3 separate regions of the Homo sapiens genome follow, and regions 1 and 3 are each reported to be linked to region 2. The links are microRNA targets in miRTarBase. Many come from high-throughput screens and were not tested one by one. Region 2 holds a microRNA gene; each other region holds the end of a gene's coding sequence.
Evidence for each region. Region 2 holds the annotated microRNA hsa-miR-4633-5p (AUAUGCCUGGCUAGCUCCUC, at 1,141-1,160, shown strand). A microRNA usually pairs through its seed, bases 2 to 8, with sites in the 3' UTR of a target mRNA and lowers its output. Matches are read on the target gene's strand: a 7mer-m8 pairs with bases 2 to 8, a 7mer-A1 pairs with bases 2 to 7 and ends in A, and an 8mer does both.

Region 1 (3,000 bases), not on the chromosome of region 2:
TCTCGTTCATGAGAGAGTTCACACTGGAGAAAGGCCATATGCGTGTGAGGTATGTGGGAAATTATTTGGTAATAAGAACTGCGTGACTATACATCAGAGGATTCACACTGGAGAAAGGCCGTATGAATGCAATGAATGTGGGAAATCATTTCTTTCCAGCTCTGCGCTTCATGTTCATAAAAGAGTTCATTCTGGACAAAAGCCTTATAAGTGCAGTGAATGTGGAAAATCCTTTGCTGAATGTTCCAGTCTCATTAAACACAGGAGAATTCACACTGGAGAAAGGCCTTATGAATGTACCAAATGTGGAAAAACATTTCAGCGAAGCTCTACCCTCCTTCATCATCAGAGTTCACACAGGAGAAAGGCCTTATGAGTGCAGTGAATATGGGAAATCGTTTGCTGAAACATCCCGTCTCATTAAACACAGGAGAGTTCATACTGGAGAAAGGCCTTATGAGTGCTGTCAATCTGGGAAACATCAGAATGTCTGCTCTCCTTGGTCTTAAGAGACTTCGCATTGGAACGGAGTCTCATTCTGTCACCCAGGCTGGAGTGCAGTGGTGCAATCTTGGCTCACTGCAACTTGGGCCTCCCAGGTTCAAGTGATTCTCCTACCTCAGCCTCCCAAGGAGCTGAGATTACGAGTACACCACACCATGCCCGGCCAAATACTTGGTTTTCAGTACCACAAGAGCTATGAGCTGGTTATCCACTTCATGTGGAATCATAAGTGTCCCCAAGTGACAATACGTATAGATTGCTGGGCAGTGAAACAGTTAAGATGTCACCGTAGCTTGCTTTCTATTCAACATCTTTCTAAGATTACCTTACTATTTCTTTTGTTCCAAGTTTGTATTTCCTCAGAGTTCTCACATATGGAAAGGATACACACTTTGTAGAAACAAGAACTTTATGTTATCCAAGTTCTGGGATAGCCATGAGCTCCAATTACCTCAGAGCTCCGAGTCCTCTACTCAGTACCCGTTGAGATTTATGTGTTCTGAGGCTTTTGTCTTCTAGCTACTTACTTCATTCTCCATGGGTAACGTCATTCATCCACATTAACTAATTTCCTCACTCCAAGCTCTTTTCTGGAGATAATCTCCAGTCCCTGTGCAGACACTGTCATTGCACTTTCTGCTGAAATGGTAGTTTCTTGCCAGCAAGGTGAGATTATGGAATCCAGAATCTTTTTTCAGGGGCCACATGCCCATTTCCCCACTTGCATGAATGTCGACACTGTAGCCACAGTTTTGGCCGTAAATGTGAATTTGGCAAGTAACCACTGTTCCCAAATTGGGAAATGTCCCAGTCAGAAGAAGATTATCTGGGACACTGATACTGACAGGGAGATGGGACATTCTGAGGGACCCGGAGGCAGGGAGCCACCTCCTCAGCTTCCCTGAGGGCTGCCTAGAATCTCTCTTGTTTCCTCTCACTCTGAATTATTCTTCCTCTCATGACTGACCAAACACATGGAACCTCACAAAGTCCATTTTAAGAGCTTTATCTTGTGAAGTGAAGAACATGAAGATAGTTTGAATCAAAGTTATTGAGTGGACACTTAATGTCTTTATAACATTTTTTACATATGTGTTTGTGTTTTTTGGGGAGCATAATTTGCAAATGGAATATCTGTTATTTTACTAAGATGCTTCATGGATACAAGAGTTAAAACTTCCTGTCCCATTTAGTGAAACAAAAGGTTAAGAAATGTGGATAAAGCTTGTAAGTTAGAAATGGCAAGATAATCAGCTATATGAAGAATCTCAGCTGGGTGTTTTGGCTCAGGCCTGTAATCCCAGCACTTTGGGAGGCTGAGGTGGGTGGCTTACAAGGTCAGGAGTTCAAGACCACCCTGGACAATATGGTGAAACCCTGTCTCTACTAAAAATACAAAAATTACCCAAGCATAGTGGTGGGTGCCTGTAGTCCCAGCTGCTTGGGAGGCTGAGGCAGGAGAATTCGTTAAACCTGGGAGGCATAGGTTGCAGTGAGCCGAGATTGCACCACTGCACTCCAGCCTGGTGACAGAGCGAGACTCCGTCTCAAAAAAAAAAAAAAAAAAAAAAAAAAATCTCAATCCCTAAATGTTACCTTTTATAACAGCAGGTTATATGGGCTTAGATATTATCCCTAAATTTTTTTTTTTTTTTTTTTTTGAGACAGAGTCTCACTCTGTCACCCAGGCTGAAGTGCAATGGCATGGTCTCGGCTCACTGCAACCTCCGCCTCCCAGGTTCAAGTGATTCTCTTGCCTCAGCCTCCCAAGTAGCTGGGCCTATAGGTTCCCTCCACCACGCCCACCTAATTTTTGTATTTTTAGTAGAGATGGGCTTTCACTACGTTAGCCAGGCTGGTCTCAAACTTGTGACCTCATGATCCACCCCCCTCAGCCTCCTAAAGTGCTGGGATTACAGGCATCTGCCACGGCACTCGGCTTATCCCTAGAAATCCTATGATAGCATGATGTATAGGCACCTAAAGGCATGGCACTTGAGAAATGTGAATAAGATTGTAAGTTACAAATAGCAAGGTACAGTCAGATGTTAACAGTCTCAGCCCCTAAATGTCACCTTGTATTACAGCATGTTATATAAGCACATACAGGCACATACATGAAATAGTGATACTTCATTCTCAGTAATATTTTTCATCCTTCTCACTGGAAAGATCTTTGATGATTTTTAATCAACATAGGAGTTTCAATGATATCTAGAAGTTTAAAAGGGCTCGTTCAAACAAATTATGACCATACACCCTGAAGAGTATGTGTCTGTCTCTTGTGGTGTAAATTTTTATTTTATTACACCCAATTATGTTCCCACAAAACCTTTATAATTGGGAAATTAAGGAGCCTTCCTCGGAAATGGAGGTTGCAATCAGCTGAGATGGTACCACTGCACTCTAGCCTGGGCAAAAGAGCAAGGCCCTGCCTCAAAAAAAACAAAACTTTTTTCTTCATAAACTACAGTTTATATAGGCAAAACTTTCAGT
Region 2 (3,229 bases):
AGGGAATTGCAGTTCTTAGGTGCTTAAGACTCCTCATTTTTATGTCTTCAAGCGTTTTCGTGTCTGACACCTCTCTGCAGCCTTCCTTGTCAGTCCTTTTACGTTACTGCTGCCAGAATACTCAGATGTTGGATGCACCTTTGAGAAGTCCATTTATAAAGGCTAGAATCCAAATACTAACTGCGGAGGTCTGGGACTAAGGATGCAGACTTCTTTATGAAGCATTTCCTGTTACGGCTTGGAGGGAGGCTGGGCTCTTATCTAAGATAATGCTATTCTAAACTAGGCCCCAGCTCTGTAAGAGTCCCCGCCTTCCAAGATAGGATTTTTATATTTGAAAATTTCAGGGCCTTGGTCTGGCAACTCTTAAAAACATTCTAGAAATTAATGAAATGTATGTACCTGAAAACGCTTGTACATTCTCAAAAGGCGTTATATAATTCTGGTCACCTGTAGCTTTTGCAGTGTTTTGCTTGGTATAGGAGATTATGTATAGTTCACTTTTTTTTGGTGAGGTTTAAAATAACAATAGCATTACTCTACTCCCTCTTCAGAAGAAATTTTTCCGCCAACTAGTCTAATAATTCTTAAGCATTAGTTATATTTTTGCATTTATATAGCTTTATATTTTTAATTCTTTAAAAATATTTTCTCTTCTATATTATCTCATTTTAGTAGTTATACTTTGACTTCTTCAGCCTGATGCCTCTCCTAGCTTAGAGGTAGATAAAGGAAGGGGATAGATACATAAATATGCACACACTGTGTATCGTATATACCTTCTGATACCGATTTATGTCTATATGAGAAGAGAGAGATATATATACACACATACATATATATGCATATGTGTGTATAATCTCAGAAAGTCATGATATTTCTCATGACTACTGTACACTATATTCTTTGGAACCTAACAGCATAATCCTAGAGACTTGGATGTTTTATGGCTGTAAGAGACCATACAGTTCATTCCACAACATGTGAGTGGCAGCTTTAAATGCCTGGCACAGTGAATGCAAACTTGGATTCAATTCTTGTTCCTTACCTAATAAATGAACTTTCACTTTGAGGAAGTGCAGAAGAACATAGGGAGGTGGAGGTGAGTAACTTGCTGCAGGTTACATGGCAAGTCTCCGCATATGCCTGGCTAGCTCCTCCACAAATGCGTGTGGAGGAGCTAGCCAGGCATATGCAGAGCGTCACTTACAGCCGAACACAGCACTACTGCTTGCATGTTTAATGAGAATTGAGCAGTCTGGAAAACAAGTCACAAACTTGAGCTCTTGTTTGTTCATTTGTCTTGGTGCTGCTCCTTGTTCTTTGGAATAAATGCTTGTCACTTAGGAAGACTCAAGGTGGCCTATCGGTGAGTCCATGTTACTGGGGATGGTTGGCCCCTTCTTGAAGGCAGGGACAAAGAGCACAAGTTTGGCCACATGTAGTTCATTGCGTAAATAGTGATTTATTATTTCTCCACACTTGGGCCCTGGAGCCTCTGTGGCCCTGGCTCACGTACTGTTAGTCTAGAATGTATTCTTCATTTGCGCCGTGGTATGAGTTGCCTTCGTGCTTATTCTGACAGCTGTGGCTGATGACCTTGTGAAACACAGTGGCTGCCTTTGCCACACTGCACCCGTGCTTGTTAGTGGTTCTATGAGAACTGATCTTTAAGACCCCCCATTGCCAGTATTAGGCTGTGGTAAGTTTTTGGTGACTTCTTTTCTTAAATATTCTGTCAAAGTAACAATGTCTGCCGACAGCTCAGGTAGATGAAGGCATAGCTCATGTTTCATGCTTGGTTTGTATGTCTGCAGCTTTGCCAAATGCTTGAGATCTGATGAATTTTGAGACACGGGAAAGAATATAAATGAGAGGATTATGTAGTGGGGATTTACGTCATTTTTATGACTTAAAAGTTTTAATTTTTCAAAAGGTATTTTGTAAGTTTTAGGTAAAGGAAACATTTAACTATGGAAATTTACATAAATGTTGTATCATGCTACCACCAGTGCATTTTCCAGCCTGTGGCCAGGAAAGACAGAGCCTGCAGAGAAGAGAGGAGGAAATGGACAGTGTAAGAAGGATGCCAGTGAGGGGATTTTACTTCTGTACATAGCAGGGAAGGCTTTGGCAGCTTTCTGTGGCCAGAAGATAAGGGCGTTCCAGGGAAGGTTATTTTGACCTTTTCCCAAGATGGTTAACTGGCAGGGCATTTTGCTCCAGCTTTCATTTTCTTGGAAGTTTATTACTATTATTATTATTTTAAACAGGGGCATGAACATTTTATAGCTAGAAGAGACTGACAGGTTCATGGTGGGAAGGGAGGGAAGGCAGGAGGAAAGGAACCTTGTTCGCCTTTGGCTTGATAGTTTGAAGGTAGTGGTTTTTGATTACAAAACCTTTGCCTCAGGAGCGTGGCAGGAAGAGGGGGTAGATGAGCTAATGCTCAGAGAGGAGACAGCTGGATCCTGAGGTGGTTGTATTGTCTCTACCCCATTGGTTTGATGTGTGTCACTTAAAAAAAAATTAACATTCCAGAATAATACCTAAAGCATTGTATCCTTTTTTGCTCCTTCTGAATACATTAGAGCTACCTATAAATAAACTGTGTTTGAGAGTAGGAGCTATGATCTGAATTTTGAATTTTTTTTCTTGCATTTAGCTAACCAAGGGAATCCCAATGTAGATTCAAATGTCATTGTGGTCCTGGGCTTGTCTAGCTTCACCTTCACCCCAGTCTGAGGCACAGTCTTAAGAAATCCTTCAGTCCTCACCCCTGGGGTGGGTGGAGACAGCTGGCGTCCCTTGGGGATTTAGAAAACTCATACCTTAACTGATAAGCTAGGGTTGTAACCTTATGCCAGTGACATCAATGTTCACAATAGGTGAATATGTTGTAAAAATAAGAGCCAATAAGTATTATTTCACAGCCTAAATTAAAAAGTCCCTGATCTGTTTTTCCAGGAACAATCTTGTCTTAGTGATTTGGTAAGGTCTTGGTAACATCTGGAAATCTACTTTATAAATCACTTTATGATTCACTTTCCTTATTCTGCATATTATGTTAACATAACAAGTTATGCAATGTTAGCATTCCTATAAATATATTTATAGGTTTCTAAAGGGATCTTAATTGTAAATATTTATCCTCATTAGAGGGTAAGTTTTTTAACATATGCTAAGTTTTAGAGTGTAGTGTTTAATATATGAGGGACATCAGAATAGC
Region 3 (3,000 bases), not on the chromosome of region 2:
CGATCTTCTGACCTCGTGATCTGCCTGCCTCAGCCTCCCAAAGTGCTGGGATTACAGGCATAAGCCACCGCACCCGGCTTGTTATGATAATTTCTAAAATGTTTTTTCATTTTAGGGTGCAGACATGAATGGATTACCAACAAAAGGACCAACAGAAATCTGTGATAAAAAGAAAGACTAAAGAAATTTTCCTAAAGGACCCCATCATTTAAAAAATGGACCTGATAATATGAAGCATCTTCCTTGTAATTGTCTCTGACCTTTTTATCTGAGACCGGAATTCAGGATAGGAGTCTAGATATTTACCTGATACTAATCAGGAAATATATGATATCCGTATTTAAAATGTAGTTAGTTATATTTAATGACCTCATTCCTAAGTTCCTTTTTCGTTAATGTAGCTTTCATTTCTGTTATTGCTGTTTGAATAATATGATTAAATAGAAGGTTTGTGCCAGTAGACATTATGTTACTAAATCAGCACTTTAAAATCTTTGGTTCTCTAATTCATATGAATTTGCTGTTTGCTCTAATTTCTTTGGGCTCTTCTAATTTGAGTGGAGTACAATTTTGTTGTGAAACAGTCCAGTGAAACTGTGCAGGGAAATGAAGGTAGAATTTTGGGAGGTAATAATGATGTGAAACATAAAGATTTAATAATTACTGTCCAACACAGTGGAGCAGCTTGTCCACAAATATAGTAATTACTATTTATTGCTCTAAGGAAGATTAAAAAAAGATAGGGAAAAGGGGGAAACTTCTTTGAAAAATGAAACATCTGTTACATTAATGTCTAATTATAAAATTTTAATCCTTACTGCATTTCTTCTGTTCCTACAAATGTATTAAACATTCAGTTTAACTGGTAGTTCATTTTCTTTTAAAGTCTATTGAAATATTCAAAAGGGAAATTTTTCACCACGTCAGAAGGCAGAATTTGGATGTTGTGATGGCATCTGTGTAGTGGTGGGACAACAATTACTATTGTTGCGTAACAAGACACTCCAAAATTTAGTGGTTTTCAGCAGCAGTGACTCGACTGGGCAGTTCTTTGCTGTTCTGGGCTCACTCATATGGCTGGCTGGGCCTGGGTCTGGACCTGGGCCGCTATGTGATTTTTATCTTGGGCTTTGAAAATTCAGTGTAGGGACCTATAAATATTCAAAGATGATGAGATGCATCCTTATATATTTTTTGTATTCACTCTGAAGCTGGGAAAGATTAAAAGGAACTCCTGCCCTTGGGTCCCTAATGAAGTCTGGGTCCTAACTCAGGCTCTATTAAGTTCTGTGGCTGGTCAAGTCACTGATTTACCTTGGGCTTTATTTGATATAAATCATGTAAATCAGCAGGTCTCAGCTTTTCTGTCCAAAGCCACCTGAGGGATAAGATAAATTCTCATTAGCAAATAAACTTTTTTAAGGTATAAATACTATTATAAAAATAACAGATATTTACAGTACAACAATGCAAGAGGATCCTAAATGAAAAGCGAATGTTTTTTCTCAACTCTCATTCCCTTATTCCAGCTCCACAGAGGTAACCAATTGTTTTTTTGTTGTTGTTGTTGTATGGTTTGTTTTTGTTAGACAGTAGTCTTTTCCTGAACAGTGCTGCTCCTTGTGGAGCAAGGCTAATTCATAGGCAGTGCATCCAGAGTCCGCCCCAGTTGATTTTGTGTGTAACCTTCTAGCAACTTTTTGAAAATTAATTTGTTCTTAAATATGCACATCATTTTTATTTATTTATGTTTTTGAGACAGGGTCTCACTCTGTCACTCAAGCTGGAGTGCAGCAGCATGATCACGGCTCTCTATGGCCTCGACCTGCAGTCCTGAAGTGATCCTCTCACCTTAGCCTCTCAAGTAGCTGGGACTACAGGTGCACACCACCATGCCCAGCTAATGTTTTTTGTAATTTTTTTTATAGAGACAGGGTTTCGTCATGTTGCCTGGGCTGATCTCGATCTCCTGGGCTCAAGCGATCCTCCACTTTGGCTTCCCAAAGTGCTGGGATTACAGGCATGAGCTACTACTGCACCTGGCCCACACATCATCTTTTAAAAATTAAGTAATATTGCAACGTTTCTAATTGTCCCTACTTCTTTGCTCCTCAAAGGTTTTACCTACTGAGCTGTGGGCTTTTTAAATTTATCTCCATATTTATAAATAAATTATAAAAATATAAAAATATAAACATTTTATTTTTTGAGACAGGGTCTCACTGTCACCCAGGTGCTGGAGTGCAGCGGCATCATCATAGCTCACTACAGCCTCCAACTCCTGGGCTCAAGTGATCCTCCCACCTCAGCCTCCTGAATTGCTAGGACTACAGGTGTGTGCCACCACGCCTGGCTAATTTTTTGTAGAGACGGGGTCTTGCTCTGTTGCCCAAGCGAGTCTCAAACTCCTGGCCTCAAAGTGATCCTCTTGCCTCAGCCTCCCAAAGTGTCGGGATTACAGGCATGAGCCACTGCCTGGCTATACTGTTATATTTTGAGCCATCAACTTCAGACATTGTTTCCCATAATGGTTGAGATGCCGCTATCTTACACTGCCTCTGCTCCTCCCACACATCCTCCCAAGTGCTTTTGTAAATTTTGCTTACATCATCAGTGTTCATAGCATGAGTGTGCCAGGTGTCTTTCATTTGCCCCTCCCAAGTCTCTGCTCCCCTCATCCTGCTTTCAGCCCAAGGAAGCTGTATAGACATCAACAGACTTCCCATGTCTCTGGGTTCTGCTGGGTTTGGCCAATAGCGATCCATAGCAGGAGATGGCTGGAGGGAGGAGAATGAAGGCAGAGTGTTTATTCCCTTGGCCCTCTCTCTGCAAGGTCACCTCAGGCCAACTGTTCCTCAGCCAGAAGTCACTGTGCCTCAAGGAACACTCCAGGCAGCCAACTCCACCTGACTTCTTTTATTTTTCCTAACCTGTCCTTCACCCTGCCCTTTTGGGCCCAGGGGTGGTGGTATTTCTGTTACTGGCTCTGGGCTACTGCTT

Region 1: miRTarBase lists ZNF417 as a target of hsa-miR-4633-5p. Seed matches in the 3' UTR shown: 7mer-m8 at 1,983-1,989.
Region 3: miRTarBase lists C18orf32 as a target of hsa-miR-4633-5p. The part of its 3' UTR that is shown has no 7-base or 8-base seed match.

What each region holds. Positions count from the first base shown.
Region 1 is chr19:57,905,926-57,908,925 of GRCh38, reverse strand. ZNF417 (zinc finger protein 417) reads left to right here. Exons shown (of 3, transcript NM_152475.3): 3 at 1-3,000. The coding sequence ends at 376. Among named protein-coding and RNA genes, the nearest start is that of ZNF417, 9.2 kb to the left of the region's middle.
Region 2 is chr5:129,096,562-129,099,790 of GRCh38, forward strand. It overlaps MIR4633 (microRNA 4633), which reads left to right and starts at 1,127; the gene lies at 1,127-1,205. The region is part of intron 1 of ISOC1 (isochorismatase domain containing 1); the gene reads left to right. LOC124901060 (a long non-coding RNA gene) reads right to left here and starts at 218. Exons shown (of 2, transcript XR_007058926.1): 1 at 1-218.
Region 3 is chr18:49,479,526-49,482,525 of GRCh38, reverse strand. It overlaps C18orf32 (chromosome 18 open reading frame 32), which reads left to right. Exons shown (of 3, transcript NM_001035005.4): 3 at 116-3,000. The coding sequence ends at 181. It overlaps RPL17-C18orf32 (RPL17-C18orf32 readthrough), which reads left to right. Exons shown (of 7, transcript NM_001199356.2): 7 at 116-1,348. Among named protein-coding and RNA genes, the nearest start is that of C18orf32, 6.2 kb to the left of the region's middle.